3 linked regions of the Homo sapiens genome follow. The protein of the gene in region 3 purifies or fractionates together with the protein of the main gene of each other region. This does not show direct contact. Each region holds a gene or a part of one and is shown on either strand. Other genes may lie near its edges. The genes, in order: SLTM, NSDHL and PTTG1IP.

Region 1 (3,650 bases), on a different chromosome or scaffold from region 3:
TGCTTTCTTTCCTGTAAGCTAAGTATCACAATGCTTGCTTTCTCTTTCCATAGATCTCTAGTTCTACAGTTTCTGTTTCTTTGTGTTTGCTACTCTGTTTTCCATAGTTATGGATGTAGCACCTTGTAAGTGCCATAGCACTAAGTAGTACAATGTAAAATAAGTTCACAACTCCTGTTTGCTGTGCTGTCTGCATGTTGTCCTGATAGGCTGATCATAGGCCCTGCCGTGCCTTGTCTTAAGGTTTTGATCTCTGGCTGTGCCTTCTTACAGTCAATATAAGATCCAAGTATTTGAAATAATCAAGGGTCAAAAAGCCCTTGGGTGCTAGAAAATACAGAAATACAAATTAATGGCCAGGCCTGGTGGCTCGTGGCTGTAAACCTAGCACTTTTGGAGGCCAAGGCGGGAGGATTACTTGAGGCCAAGGGTTCGAGACGAGCTTGGACAATATAGTGAGACCCCCATCTCCATAGGAAAATTAAAATTAAAGATGGGCATGGTGGTGTGCACCCTGTAGTCCCAGCTAGGCAGGAGGCTGAAGCAGGAGAATTGCTTGAGCCCCAGGAGTTCAAAGTTGCAGTGAGTTACGGTAGCAACACTGTACTCCAACCTGGGCAACAGTGTGATCATGTCTCCAAAAAAAAAAATTATTTTTTAAAAAAAGGAATTGGCCAGGTGTGGTGGCTCACACCTGTAATCCCAGCACTTTGGGAGGCCTAGGCGGGCGGATCATGAAGTCAAGAGATCAAGACCATCCTGGCCAACATGGTGAAACCCCGTCTCCACTAAAAATACAAAAATTAGCTGGGCGTGCTGGTGCATACCTGTAGTCCCAGCTACTTGGGAGGCCGAGGCAGGAGAATCGCTTGAATCCGGGGGGCGGAGGTTGCAGTGAGCCGAGATCGCGCCACTGCATTCCAGCCTGGCAACAGAGCGAGACTCTGTCTCAAAAAACAAAACAACAACAACAAAAGTATTAAATCATTTCCTCCATACCCTTCCCTGAGACCTGAGTAGCTTCTCACTACAAAATAGATATAAACTCTTTTCATATGCTGCTGCACTACTCATCCTTTTATCTTCTCAGACATCTTATTAATTTGCTTCTGACATTAAAAGCACACCAATATAAGTTGGTATGAGACCAAGACTGAGGGTATTGTGACTTCTCCTTTTTTTTTTTTTTGAGATGGGGTTTCACTCTTGTTGCCCAAGCTGGAGTGCAATGGCGCAATCTCAGCTCACTGCAACCTCTGCCTCCCGGGTTCAAGTGATTCTCCTGCCCCAGCCTCCTGAGTAGCTGGGATTATAGGTGTGGGGTACCATGCCTGACTAATTTTTTGTATTTTTAGTAGAAACGGGGTTGCACCATGTTAGCCAGGCTGGTCTCGAACTCCTGACCTCAGGTGATCCGCCTGCCTCAGCCTCCCAAAGTGCTGAGATTATAGGTATGAGCCACTGCGCCCGGCCAAGTGACTTTTCATATGCTATTCTTTTAGCACTATCCTGAGGAGCGACATGTGGTTGAACGCCATGGACGGGACACAAGCGGACCAAGGAAAGAGTGGCATGGTCCACCCTCTCAAGGGCCTAGCTATCATGATACGAGGCGAATGGGTGACGGCCGGGCAGGAGCAGGCATGATAACCCAACATTCAAGGTAAATAACTAACCAGTTTTTCTGCCAGCACACAACCAACACTTTATCCTTTCCATAAAAGTCATTATAGTTTCTGAGAGACTGAATTGCAACTACTGAAAACCCTAGATCTGCCTGAACATTTCCCTGTATCAACCCGTAGTCTCCAAAAGAGTGTTTGCAGAACAGCTGATATTAATGTGTTAGTTTGTATTCTTCCTTTTAAATGAATTCAGTGACGTTCTGGCAAGTTGATATAGATATGGGTATGTACGTATGGCAGGATCCAGTAAACAATGAATTCTTTTGTTTTGTTTTGTTTTTTGTTTTTTGAGATGGAGTCTCACTCTGTCGCCCATGCTGGACTGCAGTGGCGAGGTCTTGGCTCACTGCAACCTCCGCCTCCTGGGTTCAAGCAATTCTCTCATCTCAGCCTCCCAAGTAGCTGGGATTACAGGCATGTGCCACCATGCCCAGCTAATTTTTATATTTTTAGTAGAGACAGGGTTTCACCATGTTGCCCAGGCAGGTCTCGAACTCCTGACCTCAGGGGATCCGCCTGCCTTGGCCTCCCAAAGTGCTGAGATTACAGGCGGGAGCCACTGCACTCAGTCTAGATAATGAATCTTAACCTCACATTGGAACCATCATCTTGTTCTCTACCTAGCATTCCTCAAATTCTTAGGAAGAAAATACTGAAAGTGTGTTCTGTTTCCTCCCTTTTAAAATAACTCTTGGGAAGGCTTTTAGACATTTAACACAAAATCTCTTCATACGTTAAGAGGCGAGCTTTACTTTCTCTTCACACTGAGGTCGGATGTGGCCCTTCAGCCAGCAGGTCTTCAGCTTCCCCATCTCTTTCATGTCCTCCTTTCTTTCCCATTCCTCTTTCTTAGGAGAGTTATTGGCTTGACTCAGTGACCCAGGTCACTACTATTCCATGGTCACTTCTACCATCAAACTTCAGTAAGTGTGCTACTTCTGCCTGCACAAGCTCAACATTCATTGTATCTGGTTTGTAAAGGTCACCGATGACTTTTCTCTTGATAAATATAGATTCTTTTATTTTCATGGTTGTCAGACTCCTTGGTGGTTAAACACTGTTTCACACGGTCACTTATCTTTATTTTGAGGGAGTCTGTTTTCTAGGGCACCATCATTTTCTTTCTGCCTTTGTGACTGCCTTTGCAGGCTCCTTCCCGTGGCTAAGCTTTAGACACTGCTGTTTCCTTTCAGCTTCATGTTGCCACTGCCATGTAAGTGCTTTGCTGTTTCCATGAATTCAAGGTCACAGTCAAACTCATTCCTCTCCTTTTTCAAACCTTTGTGTCCCTTTTGTTGCCTCCAGTTTCTTTCAATTTGATAGTGCCACCATCCATTTCATTCACCCTGACTGGAAATACGGGGCTTGTCCTTACCTTTCTTCATTCCTAGTATAAATTTCTAAGTGTGGTTTTTTTTTTTTGAGACAGAGTCTTGCTCTGTCCAGGCTGGAGTGTAGTGGTGCAGTCTCGGCTCGCTGCAACCTCTGCCTCCTGGGTTCAAGTGAATAGCTGGGAATACAGGCGTGCACCACCACGCCCAGCTAATTTTTGTATTTTTAGCAAATGGGGTTTCACCATGTTGGCCAGGCTGGTCTTGAACTCCTGACCTTGTGATCTGCCCACCTCAGCCTTCTAAAGTGCTAGGATTACAGGCATGAGCCACTGCGCCCGGCCGTGTGGCTCTATTTTTTTTTAAATGTTTCTCAGGCTGGGCACAGTGGCTCATGCCTGTAATCCCAGTACTTTGGGAGGCCAAGGTAGGTAGATCACTTGAACTGAGGAGTTTGAGACCAGCCTGGGCAACATGGTAAAACCCTGTCTCTACAAAAAGAAAGTTTATCATAGCTATCCCTTATTCCTCATTTTAGCTTCTATCTGATCTTCCCAATTATTGTGTTCCATTACCCCATTTGTAAATTGAACTGTTGAAACTCCCATTTTATTATACCATTTATTGCTCTAAA
Region 2 (3,650 bases), on a different chromosome or scaffold from region 3:
ACCTCCTAGGTGCCTGCTCTGAACCACCCAAAAGGATGTTGCCTCTGTGTGGATCCCACAGGCTTCTCATGCCCCAAACCCCTTTTGACTGGGGACTAGTTAGTGGGGAGAAGGTGATTAAAGGGACAACTTGGTTTCCATCCCATGTACTTCGGTATCATTGATTCTTTTATGAGAATGTATTTCCATATTGATTATAGAATTATAAGACAAGGAACCTACAAGCCACAGGTTGGAGGGTGAAAACATGAGAATGCCATTGACCTGTCAAAGCAGGAATGATTATTTTGTCTTTCTTTGCTTTTCCAGGATCTGTACCCAGCTCTGAAAGGTGTAAACACAGTTTTCCACTGTGCGTCACCCCCACCATCCAGTAACAACAAGGAGCTCTTTTATAGAGTGAATTACATTGGCACCAAGAATGTCATTGAAACTTGCAAAGAGGCTGGGGTTCAGGTAAGGGGAAGGCTGGAGTGAGTGCTGTCAGGAGCACGTGATGGCCCTTTCTAAGGGTGCAAGGCCGTAGTTCTTGCAGTCTCCCTGGGCCTAGGCGGGGTTGCTTCTTAAAGTGTTGGGAAGATCTTAGAAATGAAGCCCTTGGAGTCACTGGAGATGGTGAAGGTCTGCTTGCCAAGGCTGATTTGAGATGTAATATTCTAACTGCACACAAATAGAACATCTGAGGACCTCAAGCCTATTGGCCTTCAGTTAAAGAGCTGCAGAACTTAGACATTGCTTATATTTTTATTGTGATAAAATATATATCACATACAATTTACCATCCTAACCATTTTTAAGTGCGGAGTTCAGTGGCATTAAGTACACTCACAATGTTGTATAGCCATTACCACCATCCATCTCTAAACCTTTTTCTTCTTCCCTAATAAAAACTCTATACCCATTAAACAGCAACTCCTCAATCGCCCTTCCCTACCCAGCCCCTGGCAACTACCCTTCTACTTTCTGTCTCTATGGGTTTGACAACTATAGGGACCTCACAGAAGTGGACTCATGTAGTATTTCTCCTTTTGTGTCTGGCTTTTCACCGAGCATGATGTCCTCAGGGGTCATCCATGTTGTAGCATGTGTCGGAATGTCCTTCCTTTTTCAGGCAGAACAATATTTCATTGTATGGATGGGCCACATTTTGTTTATTCATTCAGCCATGGATGGACATCTGTGTTGTCTTCACCTTTTGGCAATTGTAAACAATAGTGTTATGAACACAAGTGTACAAATATCTGTTCAAGTCCCTGTTTTCAATTCTTTCAGGCATCTACCCAGAAGTAGGGTTGCTAGATCATATACTAGTTCTACGTTTAACCTTTTGAGGAGCCACCACATTGTTTTCCAGACCTTGCTTATATTTTAAAAGAAAAGCAAACTGTGTTTACCCTTAGCCAATAGAAACGTGTTATAACTCAGGCCTGAGGGGATACGAATTTTCTGCCCATCATAGCTTGCTGCATCGTTACCAATCCTGGTTCTTAGAATTGTCTTTAGAGGACTCCAGCCACTGGCTAAAACGGCTCCCTGTCAGCTCAGTATCCTGACCCTCACAGGGATGCATGCCACAGGTACTGCATAAATTAAGAGAAAAACTTGAAGCAAGCCAGGGGGTTCCTCTCCCAACAACCTGTCCTGGCACTGTTGGCTGGTCCGCAGCATCCTCAGCCGGCCCAGCAGGGTTGGAGCTCTTCTGGGCTTGGGCCCTGGAAAAGATCACTTATAACTGACCCCTAGCAGTTGACAAGATGCTTTGCCCTGCTGAAGTTTTCACCTAATTAGCTCCTCGTTGGGTGACCAGGGGCTAAACGATGTCTCTTTGCTAGTAAATGGGAGAGGTGGGGTCAAAGCAGATTCTCCAAGTCCCAGACTCTGCACTCAGCCATGCTGATGTAACTGGAGCCCTGGGAAGGGCCCTGCTGCTCTTTGTTAAATGGAAGGTTGGGGGCATACAACAAAGATTTGTGCCCCAGGTGTGGCGGCTCACACATGTAATCCCAGCGCTTTGGGAGGCCAAGGCAGGAAGATCCCTTGAGCCAAGGAGTTCAAGACCAGCCTGAGCAACATAGCAATACCCCACCTCTACACGAATTTTTAAAAGCCAGGTGTGGTGGTATGCACCTGTAGCCTCAACTGTTTCGGGACGCTGAGGCAGGAGGATCGCTTGAGCCCAGGATTTTCAGGCTGCAGTGAGCTGTGATCCCAACACTACACCCCAGCCTAGGCAACAGAGCAAGACCTTGTCTCTTAAAAAAAAAATTAAAAAAACAACAAGATTTGAGAATAAAACAGCACCTCTCCACTCACCACAGCATTTAAGAAACAACATTACTGGCATGTGTAATGTGTGCCCATCCTCGATGCCATTGCTCTCTTCTTGTAGCCATGGATAGCAATTCTGAATTTGGGTTTATTTCCATTTGCTCCATGTGTAAGCAATATAAAGTATTGGATTGCATGTTATAAGATTTTATACAATGATATCTTATTGAACAGATCCTCCTGCAACTTGCTTTTTTCCCCAGTGTTATGTTTTTCTTTATTCATCTTGGCATATGTAACTCTGGTTTATTTACTGAAGGGGCAGAGTGGCTTAGTGGGTAAGAGTGCAGAAAGTGATTGCTGTGTTGTATTGAAGGAACATTTTCCAACACTGAGATCAAAAGATTATTTAATGTACTTTTTTTCCTCAAAGGTTTTAAGTGTTGCTTTCCACATTTCAGTCTTTAATCCACCAGGAATTTATGTTTGCTTATGGTGTGAGATAGAGATCTAACTTTCTTCCATGTGTATAACCAGTTCAGTGCCATTTATTGCATAATCCATCCTTTCTGCATCGCTGCACACCATCTGCAGCATGTCTTAGGTGTTTGTGTCTTACATGGGCCTGTTCCCAGGCTCTCCCCTCTGCCCCATTGACCTCCCTGTCTGCCCATGCAGAGAAGCTCTGCCTTTTTAGGATAAGTCTCAGTGTACCGTAGATAAATCACGCCCCCAACCAATTTCTTCAAACTTCACTTGGCTATTCTGAGCCCTTTGTTCTTCTACATATGTTTGGCTTAACCAGTTCCTTGCTAAAGCCAGCTGAGACTGCTGTTGTAATTGTGTTGAACTTGTAGGTAATTTTGGAGAGAATTGACATCTTTCCCATATTGAGTGTTCCTGTCCATAAATATGGGATATGTTTCTGTTTATCTCGCTCTTTAATGTCATCAATAGAGTTTTATACTTTACTTCGTAAAGATTTTGCATATCTCGTTAAATTTATTTGTATGTACTTCGTTTTTTGTTATTTAATAACTTTCTATTACATTTTCAGTTATTGCTAATATATAAGACGAGTTAATTTTTGTATATTGATTTTTAATTCAGCAACTTTGCCAAACGCTAATATTTTCTACATATTTGCCTGTGTTTTCTGTGTAGATTTTTCTCTCATCTGTAAGCGATGGAAGTTCAGTTTCTTTTCAAATCATTATAAATTCGTGTTTATCTTACCCTACCACTCTGGCTAGAGCTTCTCATACAATGTTGAATAAGAATGGGAACGATATGATTCATGCTAATGGTGTTCAGTGTTGGATGAGCTTCTCTTAACCAGCAGGCTGGACGCTGGGGACCCTCATAAGAGAATATCTTCCTTT
Region 3 (3,650 bases):
ATGGCTGTCATCACCACACCCTGCCCAGGGTGGTGAGGGTTACACAGGGTACTATGGCAAAAACGCACTCTAGGCTACAAAGCCACATACAATAGTGAGCTATGTTTAAAGCTGAAATGACTTCCAATAGAAAAATCCAGAGACTAAAAAGAAGCACCATCTAGAAAATGCACCAGGACCAGGCGCATTAGAGCAGGTTCAACATCACCAATGTCAAGATCTGAAACCACAGAAACAGCGTCTTTCAATTTTTAATCAGCAAATGCAAGTATCCACTTAAGTCCCACAAACTGACAGGGTGTGTCTCGAACCTACGCTACGGTCTCGTGGAGGAAGAAGAGTTTTTAAGAACATGGCTCATGCCTTAGAATAGAAATCATCGAATACATCTTTCCCGGCCTCCTCAAACCTACGCTACGGTCTCGTGGAGGAAGAAGAGTTTTTAAGAACATGGCTCATGCCTTAGAATAGAAATCATCGAATACATCTTTCCCGGCCTCCTCATATCATGAAACCTCATTGCCGGGGAAAGGAAGCCTCTGGCCCTGCAGTTCTCAAAACCTGGTAAACTCCTGACTGGAAGGGGCAAGGGGTGGGCGAGATCAGGAATCCTAAGAAAAAGGCCCCACAGGATGCTGTTTTCTGCCTAACCACTTCCCGCTGCCGTGGGCCTTCCCTCAGGTTTCCCGTGCTGATTTCATAGCGCTGCGAGGAGACTTGGGTGCTGCCGAACCAAGAGCTGCGTGGCAAGGCAAGCCCAAGAGGTGCCAGCCAGGCTGGCCCAGGCGCAGGCCACCACGCAGAGAAAACCAAAGGACCCTGTTCACACGTTTTTGTTTTTGTTTTTGTTTTTTAAAGACAGTTTTTTGCTCTTGTTGCCCAGGCTAGAGTGCAGTGGCACAATCTTGGCTCACTGCAACCTCCGACTTCCGGTTTCAAGAAATTCTCCTGCCTCAGCCTCTCAAGTAGCTGGGATTACAGGCACCCGCCACCACGCCTAGCTAATTGTTTTGTATTTTTAGTAGAGACGGGGTTTCACCATGTTGGTCAGGCTGGTCTCCAACTGCTGACCTCGTGATCCACCTGCCTCGGCCTCCCAAAGTGCTGGGATTACAGGCGTGAGCCACTGCACCCAGCCCTGTTCACACGTCTTTAACAAGACCTGCACTGTGATGCTGCTTCCCCACCACGGGTGCTCCTTCTTCCAGGTGGGCATCTGCATCAGTCTCCATCGGGAAGGCACCCCGGGGAGTCTCGGGCCCCACCTCATGCCGTGGAGGCTTAGGGAACTTTGCTCCAGACCGCTACCCTCTTGTTGAAGGTCACACAGGTAGTTAAAATCCAAACCTGAGCCCCAGGTCACGACCAGAGAGTGCTATGGACAGCCTGGCCCACCGGCCCAGAGGGCTGGTGCCTCTCTCTCCTTGCTGTGCCCCTTCCAATCCTGTGTGAGCAGCTGAGAAAGCAGTCTCTGCTGCAGCCCGACAGCCTGGGAAAACACGGGCTCACAACCTGAGGGTGTAGCTTTGCGGACAGCCAAATTTCTCGCTATGGGCCTCGTTAGGAAGACTGGCCACGCAGTGCTGGCCCCATCTGCATAGGAGTGAAATCATGGATACTGACCATGCTCAGACAGTAACTGCAGTTTTCATGAGAAGGTTTAATATACCTGAAATGGCTAAAATAACATTTGATAACGATTCCAAAAAACATCCCCCCAAATCCCAAACAACAGAGCCCTCCACACATCCCAGCGAATCCCTGGACCTAGAGAAAGCCCGTGTGCCTTTGGACGGTCTGGACGGCACTCTGGTCTCTAGTCCACGTGCTACTTACGGAGACGTTCTTCAGGCACTCTTCACAGGTTTTGTTTGTGTTCTGAGAACAAGCTGCAGGAAAGAGGCAAGAGACAAGTCAGTCACTGAGAATCAGGCAGTGTAAATATTAGTCCAGCAGGGCAGGGTGGGCACCAGTGAGGGGTGTGGCACCAAGAACCTCTGATGTGGAATTACCAAATGAAGGTCCTCTTCCTGAGCCCCTGCTGATAACAAGCCTTCTTCAAGACATGTGGAACGAGTGTTCAGGAACCCCGCTGCAGGCAGGGCACAAAGAGTATAAACATGCGGCTCCTATCCACAAGGGCTCTTCTGGGAGAGAAGAGTGCCAACACAGAAGGCTGTGTTTCAGATCTCTCTGTGAGAGGAAGTGTGCCCTGTGGCTGTGTAATCACTAACCACAAACCTGCTGGGACCTTCTGCTCATCAGCAGGCACTCTTTTGGGAACCCAAGAGCCTCCATCCGAGGCCACAGCAACGCCAGCGACACTGCCACGCAGCACACTTGTGTCTTTGGACTCACCTACAGATCTCATGTGACAAAGCAAGGTCTTAGTCCCCTGGTAGCCTCACTCCAGACTGGGCTATGCTCCCTGTACCAACCTGTACCAAGGGAGAGGCCCGGCACACCAGCCTGCTCCAACCACACAGAACACCCTGAGACTCTGCCCACTACTCAAAGCGCTGCTACTAAGGAAGGGGTCAAACTCCACGCAGCCAACAGCTCTGGAACTCAAGCCAGTCAGAAGCAAGAGCGACTGCATGAGTAACTTCCAACATGCAACCAAGCTGACTGCCTACTCCCCCAATCCTGTAACACACACACACACACACACACAGCCTACTCCCCCAATCCCATAACACACACACACACACGCAGACTGCCTACTCCCCCAATCCCGTAACACACACACAGACTGCCTACTCCCCCAATCCCATAACACACACACACACACACAGACTGCCTACTCCAATCCCATAACACACACACACACACACACACACAGAGACTGCCTACTCCAATCCCATAACACACACACACACACACACACAGAGTGCCTACTCCCCCAATCCCATAACACACACACACACACACACGCAGACTGCCTACTCCCCCAATCCCGTAACACACACGCAGACTGCCTACTCCCCCAATCCCGTAACACACACACAGACTGCCTACTCCCCCAATCCCATAACACACATACACACACACAGACTGCGTACTCCCCCAATCCCGTAACACACACACACACACACACACAGACTGCCTACTCCAATCCCATAACACACACACACACACACACACACAAACACAGTGCACGCTGAAAAGAGCTCTGTGCTCATCACCAGTCACCAGACAAAGGCAAATTAAAACTCCAAATGACAGATGACTACACACCTACCAGAATGGCTAAAATTAAAGAGAATGACAATACCAAATGTTGGCAAGGATGTACAGCAACAGAACTCTCACACAGTGTTGGTGGAAGTGTAAATGGCTCAACCATTTGCAAAGAAGGTCTGGCAGCTGCTCCTAAACAAACATGCGACCACCTATGACTCAGCAATTCCACTCTTAGTATTTCATCCAGGAGAGAAGGCGCCTGCATCCACAGATGGACCTGCGCAGGAAGGCTCCGTGACAGCCCCAAGCTGAACACAGCCCAGATGTCACTCTGTAGGAGGGTGGACAGACAGACTGGAACACTCACACGATACCAGCAGGGCATCAAGAATAGCAAACATGCGGCTCTCGTATCAAGGGATCTTCTGGAAAAGGCATTCCAAACACAAAAGGCTGTTTTACGTGTC

The links.
Region 1: the proteins of PTTG1IP (region 3) and SLTM fractionate together in Homo sapiens (co-fractionation; one large-scale study listed by BioGRID). This does not show direct contact.
Region 2: the proteins of PTTG1IP (region 3) and NSDHL fractionate together in Homo sapiens (co-fractionation; one large-scale study listed by BioGRID). This does not show direct contact.

Annotation. Positions count from the first base shown.
Region 1 is NC_000015.10:58,881,639-58,885,288, reverse strand, and holds part of SLTM (SAFB-like transcription modulator), read left to right. Parts: intron 1-1,502; coding exon 1,503-1,663; intron 1,664-3,650. UniProt on the Homo sapiens protein: When overexpressed, acts as a general inhibitor of transcription that eventually leads to apoptosis.
Region 2 is NC_000023.11:152,858,461-152,862,110, forward strand, and holds part of NSDHL (sterol-4-alpha-carboxylate 3-dehydrogenase, decarboxylating), read left to right. Parts: intron 1-309; coding exon 310-456; intron 457-3,650. UniProt on the Homo sapiens protein: Catalyzes the NAD(P)(+)-dependent oxidative decarboxylation of the C4 methyl groups of 4-alpha-carboxysterols in post-squalene cholesterol biosynthesis. Also plays a role in the regulation of the endocytic trafficking of EGFR.
Region 3 is NC_000021.9:44,863,559-44,867,208, forward strand, and holds part of PTTG1IP (pituitary tumor-transforming gene 1 protein-interacting protein isoform 1 precursor), read right to left. Parts: intron 1,890-3,650; coding exon 1,837-1,889; intron 1,831-1,836; exon of another isoform or gene 410-1,830; intron 312-409; exon of another isoform or gene 235-311; intron 1-234. UniProt on the Homo sapiens protein: May facilitate PTTG1 nuclear translocation.